3 linked regions of the Homo sapiens genome follow. The protein of the gene in region 3 purifies or fractionates together with the protein of the main gene of each other region. This does not show direct contact. Each region holds a gene or a part of one and is shown on either strand. Other genes may lie near its edges. The genes, in order: CS, KIFBP and MMP13.

The links.
Region 1: the proteins of MMP13 (region 3) and CS purify together in Homo sapiens (affinity purification with mass spectrometry; one large-scale study listed by BioGRID and IntAct). This does not show direct contact.
Region 2: the proteins of MMP13 (region 3) and KIFBP purify together in Homo sapiens (affinity purification with mass spectrometry; one large-scale study listed by BioGRID and IntAct). This does not show direct contact.

Annotation. Positions count from the first base shown.
Region 1 is NC_000012.12:56,286,646-56,290,374, reverse strand, and holds part of CS (citrate synthase, mitochondrial precursor), read left to right. Parts: intron 1-3,729. UniProt on the Homo sapiens protein: Key enzyme of the Krebs tricarboxylic acid cycle which catalyzes the synthesis of citrate from acetyl coenzyme A and oxaloacetate.
Region 2 is NC_000010.11:69,002,303-69,005,802, forward strand, and holds part of KIFBP (KIF-binding protein), read left to right. Parts: intron 1-2,743; coding exon 2,744-2,823; intron 2,824-3,429; coding exon 3,430-3,500. UniProt on the Homo sapiens protein: Activator of KIF1B plus-end-directed microtubule motor activity. Required for organization of axonal microtubules, and axonal outgrowth and maintenance during peripheral and central nervous system development.
Region 3 is NC_000011.10:102,953,590-102,957,418, reverse strand, and holds the start of MMP13 (collagenase 3 preproprotein), read left to right. Parts: upstream 1-1,686; 5' UTR 1,687-1,713; coding exon 1,714-1,833; intron 1,834-1,925; coding exon 1,926-2,167; intron 2,168-2,812; coding exon 2,813-2,961; intron 2,962-3,137; coding exon 3,138-3,263; intron 3,264-3,829. UniProt on the Homo sapiens protein: Plays a role in the degradation of extracellular matrix proteins including fibrillar collagen, fibronectin, TNC and ACAN.

The sequences.
Region 1 (3,729 bases), on a different chromosome or scaffold from region 3:
CCGGGTGTGTTGGTGTGCACCTGTAATCTTAGCTACTCAGGAGGCTGAGGCAGGAGAATAGTGTGAACCTGGGAGAGGGAGGTTGCAATGAGCTAAGATTGTGCCATTGCACTCCAGCCTGGGTGACAGTGTGAGACTCCTTCTCAAAAACAAACAAACAAACAAAAAAACATAAAATCTTCCGGGCACTGTGGCTCATACCTGTAATCCCAGCACTTTGGGAGGCTGAGGCAAGTGGATCATTTGAGGTCAGGAGTTTGAGACCAGCCTGGCCAACGTGGTGAAACCCTGTCTCTACTAAAAAACTACAAAAATTAGCTGGGCATGGTGGCGGGTGCGTGTAGTCCTGGCTACTCGCGAGGCTGAGGCAGGAGAATCGCTTGAACCTGGGAGGCGGAGGTTGCAGTGAGCCAAGATCAAGCCACTGCACTCAGCCTGGGCAACAGAGCAAGACTCGGTCTCAAAACAAAACAAAACAGAAAGTCAGCTGGTTGCAGTGGCTCATGCCGGTAATCTCAGCACTGTGGGAGACTGAGGTAGGAAGATCGCTTGAGCCCAGGAGTTCAAAGCCAGCCGGGGCAACATAGCAAGACCCCCGTCTCTATAAGAAAAGTTTAAAAGATAAAATTAGCTGGCCGGGCGCGGTGGCTCACGCCTGTAATCCCAGCACTTTGGGAGGCCGAGGCGGGCAGATCACGAGGTCAGGAGATCGAGACCATCCTGGCTAACACAGTGAAACCCTGTCTCTACTAAAATACAAAAAATTAGCCAGGCGTGGTGGCGGGTGCCTGTAGTCCCAGCTACTTGGGAGCCTGAGGCAGGAGAATGGTGTTGAACCTTGGAGGTGGAGCTTGCAGTGAGCTGAGATCGCACCACTGCACTCCGGCCTGGGTAACATAGCGGGACTCCGTCTCAAAAAAAAAAATTAATTAAATTAAATTTAAAAAAAAATCACCACAGCAAACAACCACCCTCAATTAAAAGGTCTCCTGCTGGGCTGATGTAGTCTCTGGGACATGGGGCCTCTCTAGTAGGGAATCTGTGGGACTCTAAACCATGGAATAGCTTGAACAAGGTTAACTCTGTAGAACAATAGTTTGAACTTATTAACATGTTTTCTTTGCCCACTTTTTTTGTGAAAGAAAGGGCAAAGTTACATCTTCAGTGCTGGGTTCAGCTTCCTGTTTGCCCATGTAGGGTGCAAGGGCTATGAAGGGCTGTTTGTGCTGCCTATTTTCTTGCTCAAGTGATCCTCAGTAAGATAGAGGAGACTCTTGAGGAAGTTAAGAAAAGGAGTTAAGGACAGCCCTGGTAACAAGTTGAGGTGTTCCTCGTTTGCTTTAGGAACATACTGGCTTGGTCTATGCTCTCTGAATTTACCTTTGGATTGATTCTTTTAAAAGTAATCTTTTCTGTCTGGGTGCAGTGGTGCATACCTGTAATCCCAGCACTTTGGGAGGCTGAAAATGGAGGATCACTTGAGCCCAGGATCACTCGAGGCCAGCCTGGGCAACAGAGCAAGACCCCATCTCTACAAAAAAAAATTTTTTTTTTTTTAATTAGCTGGGCTTGGTGATGTGCGCCTGTAATCCTGGCTACTCAGGAGGCTGAGGTGGAAGTATCACTTGAGCCCAGGAATTGAAGGCTACAGTGAGCTATTAACATGCCACTATACTCCAGCCTGGGGGAAAGAGTGACCTTTCTGAAGGGCCTCTTTTCATTCCTCCTCTCCGTCCCAACAGAAATAGGGGAACTAAATTTTAAAAATTCTAAAAATCTGGGAGGCCGAGGTAGGCGTATCACCAGATGTCAGGAGTTTGAGACCAGCCTGGACAACATGATGAAACTCTGTCTCTACTGAAAATACAAAAATTAGCCAAGCATGGTGGCGTGTGCCTATAATCCCAGCTACTCAGGAGGCTGAGGCATGAGAATCACTTGAACACGGGAGCCAGAGATCACGCCACTGCACTTCAGCCTGGGCGACAGAATGAGACTCCATCTCAAAAAAAAAAAAAAAAAAAAAAATTCTAAAAAGCCTTCAGCCCTATAGAACTCTCACCCCAGGCAGGTAGCAATTTTTTGCACAGAGAGCAGTGCAGTAGTTACTAGAAAAGGTGCCTCTGGTCTTTTGACAAAAGGACAGGTGCAGCCTTGCTCCAGGATTAGTTTATTTCTGTGTGTAATCTTCTAAGTCTGCAAAGCACTTTTATATCCACTGTAATTTAGTTATCATGGGACTATTCTGTGAGGTGTGTGGTGAGTATTAGAGCCATTTTATAGAGCAGGAAACTTAGGCTTAATTTGATTATCTCAATTTGTTTTCAAAATCTAGTACAGAAAAATTAATTTCCTTGCCTCAGGCCGTATTCCTAGTTAGTAACCTGATTGGTCATCTTATTTCAAAGTTGGTGTATGGCCTGGCATGGTGGCTTACGCCTGTAATCCCAGTGCTTTGAGAGGCCGAGGCAGGCAGATCACCTGAGGTCAGGAGTTTGAGACCAGCGTGGCCAACATGGTGAAACCCCGTCTCTACTAAAAATACAAAAAAAATTAGCCAAGCATGGTGGTGCATGCCTGTAATCCCAGCTACTCAGGAGGCTAAGGCAGGAGAATCACTTGAATCCAGAAGGCTGAGGTTGCGGTGAGCTGAGATTGTGCCATTGCACTCCAGTCTGGGCAACAAGAGTGAAACTGTCTCAAAAAAAATAAAGAAAAGGAAAAAGAAAACTCACAAAGTTGGTGTGGAACTTTTATTGCAACTTAACAATCTTCTCACAGATGTATTTTTTATTTGAGGAAAAAAGAAACTACCTGTACACACAGAAAAGCATAAACTAGCTAAACTATTTTCTCTCTCTCTCTTTTTTTTTTTTTTTTTTTTTTTTTTTTTTTGACAGAGTCTTGCTCATTTGCCCAGGCTGGAGTGCAGTGGCACAATCTTGGCTCACTGCAACCTCTGCCTCCAAGGTTTAAGCCATTCTCCCACCTCAGTCTCCTGAGTAGCTGGGATTACAGCTGCCTGCCCATACCACGCCTGGCTAATTTTTGTATTTTTAGTAGAGAAGGGTTTCACCATGTTGGCCAGGCTGGTCTTGAACTCCTGACCTCAGGTGATCCACCGCCTCAGCTTCCCAAAGTGCTGGGATTACAGGCATGAGCCACCGCGCCCAGCCAAACTAATTATTTTCTTTTGACACTCTTAGAAACTTTGCAAGTTTCCATTTCTGCTAATGAGTAGTCTTCTGTCAGCTTCTTTGTAGATAATCTTTGTGCTTTTTCCAGGAGGGTCAGAAGTACCGTTATGAAAGGCTGCCCTCTGCCTGTGGTCTTTCCCAGATTAGAGAGGTTGAAGTGCTGTCGAAAGACCAGGTGCAGGAGAGATCTTACCAGCAGTGTTAAGTAATTGCTCAGTTTCCTCATTTGTTTTCCTTGGGGTCACTCAAAAATATTGATAACCGCCCTGCTCTGGAGCCCAGATGATGGGAAAGAGTCTGTCTTCAAGGAATGCTAGTGAAGCTATGGATGAAAAAAAGCAGTTAAACCTCCTGCTGTCTCCATAGTGGTAACTCCTTCCAAACTGTTTGGGGACTTTTACAGCTTTCTTATGTCAAACTGCCCTAAGAGACTGAGATGAAGAGAGAGAGGTTGAGTCACTGTAATTCCTTCTTGTTAATATAAAAGAGGGAGGGGTAACAGTTACATAAGGTTCTCTTTTTTGCTTTGCAG
Region 2 (3,500 bases), on a different chromosome or scaffold from region 3:
GTGCCCGCCACCATTCCCAGCTAATTTTTGTATTTTTATAGAGACCGGGTTTCACCATGTTGCCAGGCTGGTCTCAAACTCCTGACCTCAAGTGATCCGCCCACCTCAGCCTCCCAAAGTGCTGGGATTACAGGCATAAGCCACCATGCCCAGCCTCGTACCTTGGCATTTTAACTTTCTTCCTGAAGTACTAACAAGAGCAGAGTGCCACAAAACCAAATAGAGATATTAGTCTACCCTTTCTTGCTTTTAGGCTCACAGTCTTATATGTGAAATTGTTAATTTAAAATGTAAGGTCTGAGGCCAGGCACAGTGGCTCACGCCTTTAATCCCAGCACTTTGGGAGGCTGAGGTGGGTGGATTGCCTGACTTAGAGGTTCAAAGATCAGCCTGGGCCACATAGTGATACGCTGTCTCTACAAAAACTAAAAAAAAATTAGCTGGGTGTGGTGGCGTGTGCTTGTGGTCCCAGCTACTTCGGGGGCTGAGGTGGGAGGATGGCTTGAGTCCGGGAGGGCAGTCCAGGAGGTCAAAGCAGCAGTGAGCGAGGATCCTGCCACTGCACGCCAGCCTAGGTAACCAAATAAGACCCTGTCTCAAAAATAAGTAAAATAAAATGTAAAAGCTGAACACGGTGACTTACACTTATAATCCCAGCACTTTGGGAGGCCGAGGTGGGAAGATTGCTTGATGCCAGGAGTTCAAGACCAACATGAGCAACAAAGCAAGAACCCGTCTTTACAAAAAAAAAAAAAAAAAAAGTTACTAAGCATCAATAGTATTTCATTAAAAATAGTATTTGTATGGAAACATAACACATATAGTGAAATTCCTTGTGTTTAGTTGTACCTCTGTTTCAGTTAAGAGACTGATTTGACTGTATTAATATTACGTATGATGTGTGAAAGCCATAACAGTGAAGTATGTACATAAAATAATATATTGATTAATTCCCCTCATCTAGACAGGGGTAAGCATGGTAAGCAGCCCTCGGAATTGTTGAAGAGTTCTCTGAAGAATTACTTATCTATTGTGTTTGCCTTGGGCCTTGCTTCCTGTCTTAGTTGTTTTTACTTTATGTGAATCCTGGGAGCCCACGTTGTGATGCTTTTAGTGTTTACATCCAGAATGTAAAATCATATTTTTATGAAAGACGTTGTTCCTTTTTGAGTTTAATGAATTCAGTTAAAAGCAAGAGTGTGTTTCTAGATGGGACTATCCTCATAGAAGTAGAATGAGGCAGAGGTTAGGTAGTTCTGTTTTGGAAGACGTAAGAGGGGGTTGTAAGTGATTTATAAATATTACTTAATCCTCATGAGATAGATACTGTTATTACCCTTATTTTATAGATGACTAAACAGAAGCACAAGAGATCAAGTGACTTGCCCAAGGCAATAAATAATGGAATCTGGTTTTAATGTCCCTGTATTGAAAGGGGGTAATACACTTTTGTTATTTCCTTGAGAAAAAAATATTAGAATAAATATTAAAATCTCTCATTTGATTTTTATTAGTGGTCAGTTTAGAATACTACTACTGTAGAAATATATACATTTTTCCTATTTGTTTTGCTTATGCATGTTTTTAAAAGAGCCCTTTTACCAGACAAAATTGCCATTTGAAATACTTAAAGAGGGGTCGGGCACGGTGGCTTACACCTGTAATCCCAGCACTTTGCGGGGGCCGAGGCAGGCGGATCATGAGATCAAGAGATTGAGACCATCCTGGCCAACATGGAGAAACCCCGTCTCTACTAAAAATACAAAAATTAGCTGGGGGTGGTGGCACGTGTCTGTAATCCTAGCTACCCAGGAGGTTAAGGCAGGTGAATCGCTTGAACCCGGGAGGCGGAGGTTGCAGTGAGCCGAGATCGCACCACTGCACTCCAGCCTGGCAAAAGAGCGAGACTCCATCTCCAAAAAAAAAAAAAAAAAAAAAAACTTAAAGAGGCTGGGCACCTTAGCTCATGCCTGTAGTTTCAGCACTTTGGGAGGCTGAGGCAGGAGGATCACTGGAGGCTAGGAGTTCAAGACCAGCCTGGGCAACAGAGCAAGACCCCCATCTCTAAATAAATAAATAAGAATTAAAAAAAGAAAAAATACTTCAAGAATTATATATGTCTAAAAGCAGATTGGTGGATTTTTTGCATATTTGCAGTTTAACTGCAACAACAGTAAAATTTTGTCAAATGTGAACTTTTGACATTTGGTTAAAACAAATAAAAGGGTATCTTTTATTTGTTTGACTCAGATTTTATGGTTAAGAAAATTACTTGTTGAGGCGGGTGCAGTGGCTCACGCCTATAATCCTAGCACTTTGGGAGGCCAAGGCAGGTGGATTGCTTGAGCCCAGGAGTTTTAAGACCAGTCTGGGCAACATAGCGAAACCCTGTCTCTACAAAAAATATAAAAATTAGCCAGGACTGGTGGTGCACACCTGTGGTTCCAGCTACTCAGGAGGCTGAGGTAGGAGGATTGCTTGAGGTGGGAGGATCGGGAGACGGAGGTTACAGTAAGCCGAGATTGTGCCACTCCACTCCAGCCTGGGTGACAGAGACCCTGTCTCAATAAATAAATAAAAATTTAAAAAACAGAAAATTACTTCTTGAGTAACATAAAAATGAACTAGGAAAAAATGAAATGTATTTGGCTTGTAGAAGTTGATTTCTCCAGGTCCTCCAGAAGAGGGCACTTGGTGTTTACAGTTTAAAACTTTAAAGAGCTTTTGTTTTTCTTAATTGTAGGTTGGGAGTCCTCCTCTTGATCCTACTGAGCGTTTTCTTCCTGAAGAAGAGAAACTTACTGAACAAGAGAGATCAAAAAGGTGAGTAGGTATAGAAATCAGCCCTTGCAAATATTTCCACATATCATAGATTAGTGATTGTTCAAAAAGTCACTTATAAAGGTTATAGAATGTGGATTCTGACAGGAGTAAAACCTCCATTTACCACTTACTTGTTATTTGACCTTGTTCAAACCTGAGACTCAGTTTCCTTATCTGTCAAATAGATACAATAAACAAATCCAACTCAAAGGGTTGGTGGGATAATCAAAATAAATATATATGAAATTTACTTATAAAACGTAAACCATGGTCCGGACACGGTGGCTTACACCTGTAATCCCAGCACTTTGGGAGGCTGAGGCGGGTGGATCACAAGGTCAGGAGTTCAAGACTGGCCTGACTATTATGGTGAAACCCCGTCTCTACCAAAAATACAAAAATTAGCCAGGCATGGTGGCAGGCGCCTGTAATCCCAGCTACTCGGGAGGCTGAGGCAGGAGAATTGCTTGAACCCAGGAGGCGGAGGCAGTGAGCCAAGATCGTGCCACTGTACTCCAGCCTGGGCAACAGAGCGAGACTCTGTCTCAGGAAAAAAAAAAAACAAGTAAACCATTACACAAATATTGGTTTATTTTTTCTTTACAGATTTGAAAAGGTTTATACTCATAACCTATATTACCTAGCTCAAGTCTACCAGCATCTGGAAATGTTTGAGA
Region 3 (3,829 bases):
AACAAATGCTTTCTAATAAACTAACTTTTATAAGCTTAGTCGATGAATCAAACTTTTTTGGATAATTTTTCACTTAATCTCAAAATTAAATATTATGATACATGGAAGCAACTTAAAATAAATTATTGCTTTGCATTCCTGATTGAGCACCAATCTAATCTTGAACTCACTGGAAACAATCTATTTGAAAGGGTATATTTGGCTGTATTTTGTTTGGATAAAGGCATATAGTAAATTTCCCTCAAATGATCACATACATGTTGTAGGCTTTTCTGATTTTTCTCTAAGGCACTGGCTACTCTAGATTATAGGATTTTACTCATATGTTAGGATACCCATTTCGTACTCACCCTAAAGCTGTATTCATGCTCCTTCTCTTTGTCTTACTATGTTCCTGACCTGAGCAGCATTTTCTTTCTGACTCTTAGTCACTCAAATTAACCTGCATTTCCAATCATTTATTTAAAGAAGTCCAATAAATCCAAAGATCATGGCCTATATTGCTCTACCCATTTACTTCTGCAGGGGACCAAAGATGGCACTTTGATTTCACGGTACTGAATGTGTGATGTTCTGAAAGGAATAATAGGGTAGAGGCCCCTAGGACTATTTTCCTGATGGTTGGACCAAGATTACTTCTATTATTCAAACTTAAAAATTGAGAAACTTGAAATTGGCCTACTGCAGCCCTAGTTTTCTTGGGCACTCCCTGAGGTGTAGGAACCAAACAGCTCAGCTTTTAAGAAAATATCTGAGAATGGAAAGGGTGGAGGTCATAATTAGACAGGGACGGTGGTCAAGAACATTGAGTTTTGAGTTATTGGCCTAGGTTCAAATCCTGGTATCATTTATAAACTATATGACCGTATACAAGTATTTAACTTCTCAGTGTATCAGATTATTCATATGTAAAATGGAAAACAAGCTTTCTGACAGCACCTATGTGGCTGTTGTAAGGATTAAATGAGATAATGCCTTTTAAACCTAGAATGCAGTAATCCCTGTTTGTGCTAGCCATTACAGTTGTTCCGTTCCAATGTAATTCTTCTACCTCTGTCTGAATCTGTAGGGAATTTATGCAGGACTCCATATTTGTCGAGAGGTCATGCCAGTGTGTTTAAATTCCAACCATGGGGCTCAATCCTGCGGTTGTGCCGTAGCACCTCCAAGTCATCAAGCTTGGTTTTGGTCCAATATCGTGAACTTCAGGTAGACACAAGACATCTCTCTGTAGTTATTCTAGAGAAAATGCAGTTTATAATTTACCAGGCAGTAGTAAACATTCTAGAATCAGTACTAAGTTTCTCTTTATGGAAGTAAACATGCCATCTTGATACACTTATTATTCGAAGAAGCAAAAGTAGATACGTTCTTACAGAAGGCAAAAAAAAAAAAATTTTGCTAAGTGAAGTAAAAAATGTACTACTCTCTGCTTCTTCCCACAGTATCCATAAATATGCTGAGGCCGTTTATTTTGCCAGATGGGTTTTGAGACCCTGCTGAAACAAGAGATGCTCTCATTTATATTTCCCTCAAATTCTACCACAAACCACACTCGGGAGGGAAAAGAAAAAGTCGCCACGTAAGCATGTTTACCTTCAAGTGACTGGGAAGTGGAAACCTATCCATAAGTGATGACTCACCATTGCAGGCCTATAAAAGTAAAGGTAATCTCTGCGGAAAGACAACAGTCCCCAGGCATCACCATTCAAGATGCATCCAGGGGTCCTGGCTGCCTTCCTCTTCTTGAGCTGGACTCATTGTCGGGCCCTGCCCCTTCCCAGTGGTGGTGATGAAGATGATTTGTCTGAGGAAGACCTCCAGTTTGCAGAGGTAGAGTATCTTGCCAATCCTGATGATGCGGTTGGTACATCTCAGAAATGTCCTTCTCTTTTAAACGCAGTTCATTTTGGTGTCTTTTCTAGCGCTACCTGAGATCATACTACCATCCTACAAATCTCGCGGGAATCCTGAAGGAGAATGCAGCAAGCTCCATGACTGAGAGGCTCCGAGAAATGCAGTCTTTCTTCGGCTTAGAGGTGACTGGCAAACTTGACGATAACACCTTAGATGTCATGAAAAAGCCAAGATGCGGGGTTCCTGATGTGGGTGAATACAATGTTTTCCCTCGAACTCTTAAATGGTCCAAAATGAATTTAACCTACAGGTAAATCATAGGCTATCTTTCTTTCATATTTGTTAGCCTTTTCTTGTAGTATTAAATGTCTAATATTAAGTAGGCCTTATTATTTAATTGGCAGTTAAATTCCAGAATAGCTTTAATATGGTTGCCGAGAATACCTCATAACATCTATTATTGTTACATTAACTCAGCATTATTTTTTAGTGGGCATCTCAAAGTATTTCTTTTAGAGATGAAATCAAAAGAGAAATAAAAGTAGGTTAAAGAAAATTTGCAAACATAGTACATTAGGTGTATTTATTACAACAGTGCTCAAGATGAAGAGTTCCACTCTTTCTAGAAACTTTACAGAGCTATTTCATTTATTTGAGCTTTATCAATGTAATCTAAACTTTTAGCATGCAAAATAAATTATATTAAACATTGGAATATTTTAAATTTAAGATGCCACATGGTCAGATATTTGGAGATACTCAAATGTGGCTGAATTTTTGACTTTTTATTCTTGTATGGCATCATAATTAATACATTATTTGAAACAATAAACCTCTAGTAGAACTTTCAAAGAAATTATTGCATTTTGAATTGAAAAGCAATATACCAAGAAAATGTATTCTAAAATAGCTGTCACTTTCCAAAAAGTTCATTGAAACTTTCTCTGTTAAATAGAATTGTGAATTACACCCCTGATATGACTCATTCTGAAGTCGAAAAGGCATTCAAAAAAGCCTTCAAAGTTTGGTCCGATGTAACTCCTCTGAATTTTACCAGACTTCACGATGGCATTGCTGACATCATGATCTCTTTTGGAATTAAGGGTAATGATGCACATTTATTTTACAAACATTTTTATATTCTAATTCTTGGTTCCATTTTAAAATTATTTATTTCAGTCATTCATTACTTTTTAAAGAATTCAACACTAATTTACCAAACACCTGTGCTAAGTACTCCTGGATGTGATAAGACTCCTAACCCTTGCTTTTGTGTGTAGAGCATGGCGACTTCTACCCATTTGATGGGCCCTCTGGCCTGCTGGCTCATGCTTTTCCTCCTGGGCCAAATTATGGAGGAGATGCCCATTTTGATGATGATGAAACCTGGACAAGTAGTTCCAAAGGTAATGTTTCTTATAAAGATATCATTTATGTGTTATTAGATTAGACAGTGAACACACTAGTATGAAGTTAAAACACATAAAAGTTAAATATATTTGGTATTTGACTATATTTTCTTAAATAAAGTTTATCTTAGATGTATTAGTGTCTCTACAAGTGACATTTCTACAAATTGATATCAACATTAAAAAATGAACAAAATCTACTTAATCTGTCACTGTGGCTTGAGGGATACTAATGAACTTTGAAGTAGGACCAAAATGTTTATGTCTGTCAGCCAACATGTTATTACTGCAAATTACCTTTTGGCATGTTGAGGAAGTACAGTTTATTAGAAATATCTAACTAAAAACTACCAGGGCTGGATCTATGGGTCATACATGAATTAGATGTGAATTGAAATAGTTTTTTGCTTGGTAGAAATATGTTCAATCAAATTTCTGTTTCCCATTATATGAGTTGCTTGATTCAGTCTTGTCTATATATTGTAAACACTATTCTTAAAAACCTAGACAGACTCTTACTCCAAACAGCATGAAACAGACAAGATGATGGTTGTATTTACAAG